2 linked regions of the Homo sapiens genome follow. The protein of the gene in region 2 interacts with the protein of the main gene of each other region in a pairwise test. Each region holds a gene or a part of one and is shown on either strand. Other genes may lie near its edges.

Evidence for each region.
Region 1: the proteins of RAD54B (region 2) and RIBC2 interact in a two-hybrid assay, tested with the Homo sapiens proteins (2 studies listed by BioGRID and IntAct).

The regions. Positions count from the first base shown.
Region 1 is NC_000022.11:45,423,581-45,430,878, reverse strand, and holds part of RIBC2 (RIB43A-like with coiled-coils protein 2), read right to left. Parts: intron 4,932-7,298; coding exon 4,704-4,931; intron 1-4,703. UniProt on the Homo sapiens protein: Microtubule inner protein (MIP) part of the dynein-decorated doublet microtubules (DMTs) in cilia axoneme, which is required for motile cilia beating.
Region 2 is NC_000008.11:94,371,255-94,374,208, forward strand, and holds the end of RAD54B (DNA repair and recombination protein RAD54B), read right to left. Parts: intron 1,134-2,954; coding exon 916-1,133; 3' UTR 706-915; downstream 1-705. UniProt on the Homo sapiens protein: Involved in DNA repair and mitotic recombination. May play an active role in recombination processes in concert with other members of the RAD52 epistasis group.

The sequences.
Region 1 (7,298 bases), on a different chromosome or scaffold from region 2:
CACCACCACCTTTCCCCAGAGCCAAAGAACCCCAGGGGATTATCTAGGAGGCCTGGCCTCTCATTCTACAGATGGGGAAACTGAGGCTCAGAGGACGAGCAGGTAGGTGACCGATGTCATGCAGGAAGCCAGAGGAGACCCCCAGCCTGCCCTCATTCCATGTGGCCCAGCTGCCCTCCCCCGTCAGGAGGTGCTGGCCGTCCTCCTTCTCCTAAAGGCACAGCAGGGACTCAATTCCTACAGCAGCCTCCACTCCCAGCTCCGGGGTGCAGGGCTCCCAGGTGCAGGCTGGGCCCAGAGTCTTCCTTCTCAGGTCCTCAGGGGGCTCCCTGGCTCAGTCAGCTGTCAGATGCCACCTCCATGAGCCATGGCCGGCTGCCCCACAGCTGAACGCAGATCACCTGGGCAGCTTCCAGAACATGCAGACACCACAGCCTCACCCGGTGACAGGAAGGTTATGGTCCTAGAGGGGCACCCCAACCCCTGAGTTGCTATGTTTCAGCTCATTCCTCACTGCCCTCCTCACTGTGAAAACTCTGGAGCCCTGGAAGAGGAAGCTGGATTTGTGTGGAGGAAGGGGTACTTCCCCGTGTGTTGTCAGCTTTGTTAGGGCTGAAGACGAGTCCCCTTTGCCCACGTTTGCCATTTTTAGGGCAGAGCCTCCTCCCGCCAAATAAGCAAGGATGTGTCCGGTGAGTGGCACGGGGGTCTGGGCGGCCCCATCCTGGGACTGAAGGCAGGCTGGCGGGCTTTGTCACCCACGAGGCAAGTCACCCTGCTCTCATGAACCTCAGTGTCCCCCGCTGTAAAGCCAGGCTGCTCTCAGGAGCCCAGGGTCATCACACAAGCTGCTTGGTGGCAAACAGGGAATGGCATGGGACACACTCACCCGGGCTAAGAGCAAAGCAGACAGCCCAGCTGTTTGAGGTGAGATCTCAACTTTCCCAGTTACCTCCAAGCATAGAAAAGGGGATGGAGGCAAGGACCCAGAAAGGAAGCGGGCAGTAGTTCTGAGTGGGGAGGTTTCATGTGTGTTTTTCCCCCTTTGTGCTTTTCTGTCTTCTTAATTTTCTACAAAAAATGAAAACTAGACAGCAATACTGCTTTCAGGATGGCCGGCCGATCTCCTGTGCCAGATGGTCCAGGCAGAGCGGCAGTCCTGAAGCACAGAGCAGGGCCCTGGACCCCCATTCCAGCCCCGGCGCCCTTTCCACCTTGGACTACTTCCTGAACTTCACGCCCCCTGCCTGCCCAGGTCCCGGCCCCACTGCAGCCTCCCACACATGTGCACCTCTGGCCTGCAGGGAAGCAGGTGGACGAGCTGCCCCACCCACTCCTCATGCCCTGGTCCACGCCACCGCCACTGTCCCTCCTCCTCCCCAGACCCACCAGATCAGAAGCTTACACCAACTATGGCACCTGCCACCCCAGCCTGGCCTCTTCCACCCACTCTTTGCAGGTTTGAGACCCTCTCCAGATCTCTCCTGCCAGGATTCTCAGTGGTTTCAGCACACACAGAGACAGCCCTCTCTTGTCCCCAGCTGCTCAGCTCTCCTGCCTCCTCTCCAAAGATCTAGTCCCGGCTTCACCTTCTCACCCACTGGGCACACCCTACCAGTGGTTCTCAAACTTGAGTAGGCATCAGAATCCCCTGGGGGCTTTCGAAACCACAGACTGCAGGCCCCACCCGGCCGATGCTGTGGGTCCGGAGACCCTCCCTTTGGGACCCTCCACCCTTCCGTTGTCATTACCAATAACAGTCTCACTGCTCTAACCTGTCTCTTCCACTCTCTCTCCAAGTCCCTGATTCCAATGATTATGCCCCCCGCAAAGTGTGACCTCCAGTCTGCTGGCCGCCACTTTTCCAATCTCTCTCTGGCCCCCTGGTTCGTCTCATGGCAGATGCTCCCAGGCCAATACCCTCGGCCCCCTGAGTCCTTCACTTGATCAGGCAGGCGGTGACCACAATGAATCTGGCTAAGCATGGTGGGGGACACCCTGACAGTGCTCTCTGGGGTGACCCAGACTATGGGGTGACCCAGACCTATGGGGTGACCCAGTCATCTGACTATGACCCCCTAGTGGGCCCTGGGCACTGTCTGACCATCCTGTCCCCTTCCTCCAGGCTGTTCCCTCTCCAGCTCTTCTAGATGACCACTTAGCACTAACTCCCCCCGGCCCTGCTCAGTTCTACTTCTAAAAGGTAGAAAATGACGGTCACTTCAGTGGTCCTGAGCCACAGCCCCCAGTACAGATCAACTCAGGTCTCAATTCTGTTCACCCGCAAGCTCCCGCCCTGATGCCCCTTCCCGTGACTCCAGTGATGGCTCTGAGCTCCCAGAGGCCACACCAAGCCCTCAACTAGCACTCCATGTCCCTCGCTCTCCTGCAGCCCAGGGACACGGCTCCAGCAAGTCTCTCCTCTGGCATCAATTTCCCCCTCTACTGCATCACTCCGGCTGAATGACAAGCATGCTGTTATTTCTACAATCAAGACAAACAAAAACTTTCCCTTCACCTCATGGCCCCCACCAGCTCCTACTCCATTTCTCTGCACCCTTTACAGCAAACGCCTTGTAAGTGCTGTCTGCATGTGCCATCTCCATTCGTTTCCTGCCTGTTCTCTCTTGAGCCCATTAGGCTGGCAGCCCCACTCCTCTGCCAAACATGCTCCTTCCTGACAGGGTCCCTGGTGACTGCCATGGTGCTGGATCCAGCGTTTAGCCTGAGCATGGCAGCAGCGTTTGACCCAGGGGTTCCCCTCTCCTTCCCTCCCAAACACCTTTCCTCACTTGGCCTCCAGGAAACCACGGCTTGCATCTGTCCACCTCCCTGGCGGCCCCTTCTCAGATGCCTTTGCTCTTTATCAACAGTGGTGGTGAGAAGGGGGGTGCTGGGGAGGTGGGAGCAGGACTCAGTCCTCAGCTTTAAATACTCTCTGTAGGGCCGGGCATGGTGGCTCACGCCTGTAATCCCGGCACTATGGGAGGCTGAGGTGGGTGGATCACTTGAGACCAGGAGTTTGAGACCAGCCTGGCCAACATGACGATACCCTACCTCTACAAAAAATACAAAAAGCAGCTGGGTGTGGTGGTGCATGCCTGTAATCCCAACTACTGGGGAGGCTGAGGCAGGAGAATCGCTTGAACTCAGGAGGCAGAGGTTGCAGTGGGCCGAGACTGCATGACTGCACTCCAGCCAGGGTGATAGAGTGAGACTGTCTCAAAATACATGCATACATTCTCTCTGTAGGTGACGACTCACATTTATGCCTCTGGCCCAGACCTTGTTCTGAGCCCTATGTTACATATCCAGCTGCCTCCTGGGCTTTAATTGGAGATTGTGGCAGAAAATACTACTTGTCTCCCAGTAACCATTTTTCGTTCTTCTTTAGTAAAACAATCACCAGCACTTCACTGTCTGGAATAAACGCATTTCCTTGACTTCTTTAGAGTTAGGGGCAACCTTGTGACTAAGTGTTGTCCAGTGAAATGTAAGTGGAAATCTCCTTAGAGTGTTCTCCATTCCTCCTTCCTGGTAGCTGGACTATGCATGTGATGGCTGGTGCTCAAGCAGCCATCTTGCACTAAGAAGTGAGAGCCAGGAGCCAAGGATAGCAGGACATCAGTCAATGACCACAGAGCTGCCATACCAGCCCTGGACTGTTTTCCTGAGGATTTAGTCTACTTGCAAGAGAGAAAGTTCTATTTTGTTTAAGATGCTGTTATGTGTGGTTTTCTGCCACATTCAGGCAAATGTAATCCTAATAGATACAGATATCTAATGGACTTTGCACACTTGACGTATCCAAAATTGTAACTCTGATTTCCACCCCTCCCCACCCACCAACCTGCTCCTCCCACCACCTTCCCCATCTCTGGAAATGCCAATTCCATCCCTCTAGTTGCTCAGGCCACAGGACCTAGAGTCGCCTTTAACTCCTCTCTTTCACACGTCCCCACCCAATCATGCATCCAATCCTGTCGACTCTACCTTCAAAACAGATCCAGAATCTGACCATTGCTCAGCACCCCCACTGCCTGCCCCGTGGTCCCAGCCAGCATCACCTCTCGCTGTGAACACTGCAAAGGCCTTCCTGGAGATCTCCTTCCTTCCCCCTCAGCCCCTAGTGTCTGCCCTCAATCCAGGGGGATCACGCTGGGGATCCTGTTCAACCTAAGTCAGATCCTGTCACTTCTCTGTCCAAAACCCTGCAGAGTTCCCCGTCTCCGTCACAGAAGAAGCCAAAGTCCTCCCCAGTGGACTGCCAGGACCTCGACCGTCTGCCTCTGAGGCCTCCGTACCTGCCCCTCTCCTCACTCCACTCTAGTCACCAGGCTCCACGCCCTTCTCTGAGCAGGTCTGGCAGGGTCCTGCCTCAAGGCCTTTGCCCTTGCAGCTCACCCTGCCCGGTCGCCCTTTTCCCAGGTAGACACATGGCTCCCTCCCTACCCTCTTTTGGGTCTTTGCTTCAATGTCTTCCCATTCTACTGTCCTCTATCTTGGCACTCCTACTCCTAATGCCACATCATACGGGTGTGACACTATCTGGCTCTTGTCTCCCACCGACTAGAAGGGAAACTCCTTGAGGGCAGGTGCTAGGGCAGAGCACAAGGCCTGCTACAACTACATTTGTGCCTGGAAGGCAGTGGGAGCAAAGAGCCTGGCTCTATGGGCTCTGGAAAAAGGGGCGGGGCAGTCACCAGCTTCTCCTGGATTTGCTGCTTCTGGACTAGGCGGATCTGCTCCAGCTGCTCCTGGGTCATGCCCTTCCAGCGGTCAGGGACCACGCGGTGGGGCCCGAAGGAGCTGGCTGCCTGCTGCGGGTTCTCGGAGAGCAGGTCCCCACGCAGGAGGTTGGTGATCTCGGCCAAGTTGTCCTCTTGTTCTTGCTTTTTCTCTTGCTTTTTCCTTTCCACTGACTCGATGGCCTAAGCAGGTGAAGACATTAAAGAAGATGGTCCGAGTGACCCCAGGGGCATTCTGACACCCAGGCCAGCAAATCTCACTGGGGGCCCTCGAGGGGAGGATATGCTAAGGGCAGCAGGAGTCGGGTGGAGGGGAGACTTGTCAGGCACGGATGTGGGTGGGTCCTTGAACCCCTGGCTGCCTGCGCACTGCTGGGCGGGTGGGCTGGACTCGGGGGATCACCACCTGTTGGGTGTATGCATAAGAGCTCCGGGTCTTGCACCAACTTACCAAGGCAGGGAACTCCCTCCTTGGATTAGGCCGACACCCCGCGTGGGCCTGGTCCCACCCAAGGCAGGGCTCTATGCCCCTGGCAACCCTTGGACATCTGTGGGCTGCAAAGAACGCTCAACAGAGTGATTGACAACAGTGGTAGAAAATGCACTGTCACTTCAGTGGTCCTGAGCTGCAGCCCCCAGTACAAAGTAATTCCAGGTCTCATTTCTGTTTGATTCCCTGGGGGTTCCCTGGCTATGTGGCCTATACCAAGTCACCTCCCCTCTCTGGGCTGCAGTCATTTCTCTGTAAAGTCAGGAGATGGCTTAGGAGACATGTACTTGGGTTTACAGTTGTCCTCAGTAACACATGGACAGGGCAGTTTGCAAGGAGCCGGCCTCCCACATGTGCTCACCAGAGGCCAGCTTGATTGAGTCACACAGTACAAGCTTTGTAGTTAGACAGGCCCAACTTCAATACCGGACTTGCCACTGAGTACTCCCTAAGGAAGTCAGCTCATCCTTCCAAGCCCCTACACCCGTTTTTTTTTGTTTGTTTGTTTGTTTGTTTTTTTGAGACGGAGTCTCGCTCTGTCACCCAGGCTGGAGTGCAGTGGCACAATCTCGGCTCACTGCAACCTCTGCCTCCCAGGTTCAAGTGATTCAACACTGTTCTTACTTTGGGAGGCCAAAGTGGGCAAATCACAAGGTCAGGAGTTCAAGACCAGCCTGGCCAACATGGTGAAACCCCATCTTTACTAAAAATAGAAAAATTAGCTGGGCGTGGTGGTAGAGGCCTGTAATCCCAGCTACTTGGGAGGCTGAGGCAGGAGAATGGTGTGAACCCGGGAGGCAGAGCTTGTAGTGAGCCAAGATCGCGCCACTACACACTCCAGGCTGGGCAAGAGAACAAGACTCCACCTCAAAAAAAAAAAAAAAAAAGAAAAAAGAAATGTGAGCAGAGGTGGCAGTACTGCTCCTGGGAGGAAGCCTGCGGGGACTAGCCACATTCCTTCCCTCCTCCTGCAGGGATCCTCTGGCTGGCGGTCGCTCCATCCCAGGACCTGGGCTCCAAAGTGAGGATGCCAAGGAACAGGCCTCACAGCCTGTCCATGGCGGGCAGGGAGCATGCATGGAACATCAACTTTCTGTTTAAGCCACTGAGACTGCTGCTTCTTATCCCAGCAAGGGTTAGCACATTCTGACCGACACAGGAGGGTGTTGTCGCTTCCTCATTCTGCAGATGATCAAATGGACGCAGTGGGTGGCCTGCCCAAGGCTGCAGGGCAGAGCCTGGTCTGCACCCCGTGTGGTCGGGCTCCAGAGCCTGCGTGCCACACCCTGATGCCACAATGCCTCTCTGACGAAATGAGCCCCGACCCAAGAACTGGAGGCCCTCACGTGTGTCCTTCCTGTTGAACTGGACCGGCCTGCTTGGGCTTTGGATTAACATCCCAGGTTAATTAAAAAGCCTAGTTGTAGTTAGTAGCAGAGCTGCAGAAGCCAGAGGGCGGCTTTTCCCAGTGCAGGAGTGTTTGCAATGGTGCTGCCTCGTGGCATCCACGTGAGGAGCCGGGGGTCTGAGAAAACCAGGCAGGCTGTGGATGCCCATTAAACATCTTCTAGAATATATGAATGAATAAATTGATGAATGAGACAATAGGGTTTAGCAAAAGCCACTCCAATGCCCAGCAGGAAGGGCTCAATAAACATTGGTTGAATTGATGAATGAATGAGTGAATTATCATCATCATCATCACCATCGCTTCCATAAATGAATGAGCAGATCACCAGCCAACAGTGGACTAATTGTCAAGGGCCCCACATCCTGCCATTCACTTGCAGTGGGGACTGGAGCAAACAGCCTCCCCTCTTTGGTCGCCCTCTGTAAAATGAAGGGCAGGGATGGATGATCTCTAAGACCTTTGCAGCTCACTGGGTGGTGAGCTCGGACTTCAGGTGTCTTGCTTTGCCTTTTGGTCCTCCCCAGCCCCCGCAGTTGGCTCTCCTCATTCCTCTCCCCCGTGTTGAAAACCCACATTCTCTGGTGTCTGGTCCAGCCTCTCTGGGATTTTTGACTGCCTGCCTCCACCAGGACAGTTTTGAGCTTGTATC
Region 2 (2,954 bases):
GGATGGATATTGGATCATATCCAATCATAGTTCACTGCAAACTCAAACTCCTAGGCTCAAGCAATCCTTCTACCTCAGCCTCCCACGTAGCTGGAACTACAGGCATGTGCCACCATATCTGGCTAAGTTTGTTTTTTAGAGTCAGGGTCTCACTGTGTTGCTCAGGTTAGTCTCAAACTATTGGCCTCAAGCAATCCTCCTGCCTCTACCTACTAGGTAACTAGGATTACAAACTGGAGCCACTGCGCACAGCTAAAACACTCTTTTCAATGCCAAAAATTACTCCAGATAACCCTTAAATGATGGTAGCTGAACCTTTGTTCAGTGCATAAACAATATTTGGTAGACATGGCTTTATAGACTGCATAAGTCTGAGGTCCCAAACTAGGAACTAGTGCTCTCAAGTGTTCCCAAATCCTTCAACTCCTGCACTAACCCATTGACTTTTCTCACTCAAACTGCCCTGCAGCAACTATTACATCCAACATCTTTAGCATTTGCGATCCTAACCTCTCATTCTCTTTCTCCTTTGAGCTACATTTTAAACTTACCAAGTTTTTCAGTTGTTTCAAACATCTGTCTAATATTTCTAATCAGATTAGTTTTCCCAAAGACAGAGAGTATTTTACCTTTTTATATTCCTTATAAAAATTTCTCAGTAGATACTTAATGAAAGTGTATTAATCAAGGAATTATTAACAATTATACAATGATATAAGCACATCTTTATTTTTCATTTAAACACTTAATATTTACAAAACATTAAACCACTCAATTTTGACTATTGTATCAAAAGTGATATATTTTGCAACATATACTGTAATTTAAATAATTCTATTAATTTTCAAAAAGTACATTTAATTACCATACTAATTTTCAAAAGAAGAGCAATGGAATGTCAGAAGTAATCTTTCACTATGTGCCAGTAGCTTGAGTGGTTATATTCTGAAAAATGAATGACACATTTTCTGTTATTCTTTCAAGAAAAGGATCTGTAAGATTTAAATGATCTCCAGAAAAATGTTTCCATTGCTTCAGCTGGGACATAGAAAGAGGTTTCAGGGAGTTAGATTTCTGGTGATGTGGACCAAGCTGACAATCTCTAGAGACAATGAATTTTTCCAACGAATCACCTGTAATAAGTAAAACAATGAGAAAATCCTTAGGCAAGCCAATATCCTGCTAAATACAATACTTTTTTGTTTTATGATAATTAGTTTATGTGATTTATTACATTTGATCACCATGGTTCAAGTTAAAACAAATTCATTCTTTTTACAAACATTTATAAGTTATTTACTATGTACTGATTTAAACAGCAAAGGTAAAATGATGAAGAAACACAGGCATGGTCTCTGACTTCAAGGACCTTACAGTCTAGTGGGAGAGATATACATTAAATAAATAATCATCTGAAAAATGTATTACAAATTCAAAATCCCTTTCCTAAAACCTGTGGGGCCACGTTTACAAATTCAGAATATAATTCGAACAATCTGGGTCAGCATTCCATAATGAAACTCATTAACATTCTGTAGCAAGTCATAAATAGTCTTACAAAATGGGTTAAATAAAGACTATTGATAAACTCACATCAATTTAGGTAAGGTTTTGCCACAAATAATTTTGTCACAAATTTATGAAGAAAAAAAAACCTTTTGAGCTTTCTAGATTTCAGAATTGAAGATAAGGGACTGTGGAGCTGAATTACAAACAGAGGTAAGGGTATGAAGGAAAGATACAGGGAACTATCTTACATATGACAAGAGAGGCTGACTTGGTCCGGAAGGTAAGTGAAGGGCACCCTGAGGAAATGTTCTATTAAGATCTGAAAGATGAGAAAAGAACTAGATGGGGAAAAAAGATAAAGCATTCCATGATAAGCACATTAAAAAGCTATGAAAAGGAAGGGACACTGGCATAGTCGAGCAATTGATACGAGCCTATGCAATTAAAGCCTATAGAGTAAAAGCAAAGAATAATGCAAAAGAAGTTAAGTAATGCACAGTGAAGCAAGTATTCAAGGGCTGGATTATGCAAAACATGAATGGCAGAGGCCAGCCGTTATTCACCAAATCCATTTCTCTTTCCTCCAGGGCACTTAGTCACCTTTTCCAGCCTCCCTTACGGTTAGATATTGCCACTGAGTCTGGCCTTATGGAATGCAGCTATGTCACTTCCAGGTCTGAACTATAAACATCCTTCAAACTGAACAATTTTCTACTTTATCTCTTCTCTCACTGCTGGCTGGCAGATGCAGGGTATCCCAGCAGAGGACTCTAAGGTCCAAATGGATGGAAGAGCTCCAAGTGAAAGAACCCTGGATCACGAAATTACCTTATGAAAGGCTGTCCACTAAATGCCCACAATGACCTGTTACACAAATGAGAAACATATTTCTATTGTGTTAGACCATTGTGCTTTTTTAGTTTCTTGTTACAGCAATTAGACTGCCCTGACTAACTTATCAATTTAGAGATTTTAGTATCTATCCTAAGAGCAATAGGAAGCTATTGGAGGTTTTATTTTTTTAACCTTTTAATTATGGGAAATTTCAAATAAATATAATAAATATATAGCATGTATCATTTCACTTATAAATATTTCATTCTACATTTCTAAAAGATAAACACTTCTTTGAAATTTTATCACACCTAAAAGAAAAGCCTCAAGTCATTCCTTAATATCATCAAATTCTTGTCAGTGTTCATAATCATTGAGGTTTTAAGAAAAGAGATGACAAGGCCGGGCGCAGTGGCTCACGCCTGTAATCCCAGCACTTCGGGAGGCCAAGGCGGGCAGATCACGAGGTCAGGTGATCGAGACCATCCTGGCTAACACAGTGTAACCCCGTCTCTACTAAAAACACAAAAAATTAGCCAGACGTGGTGGCAGGCGCCTGTAGTCCCAGCTACTCGGGAGGCTGAGGCAGGAGAATGGCGTTAACCCGGGAG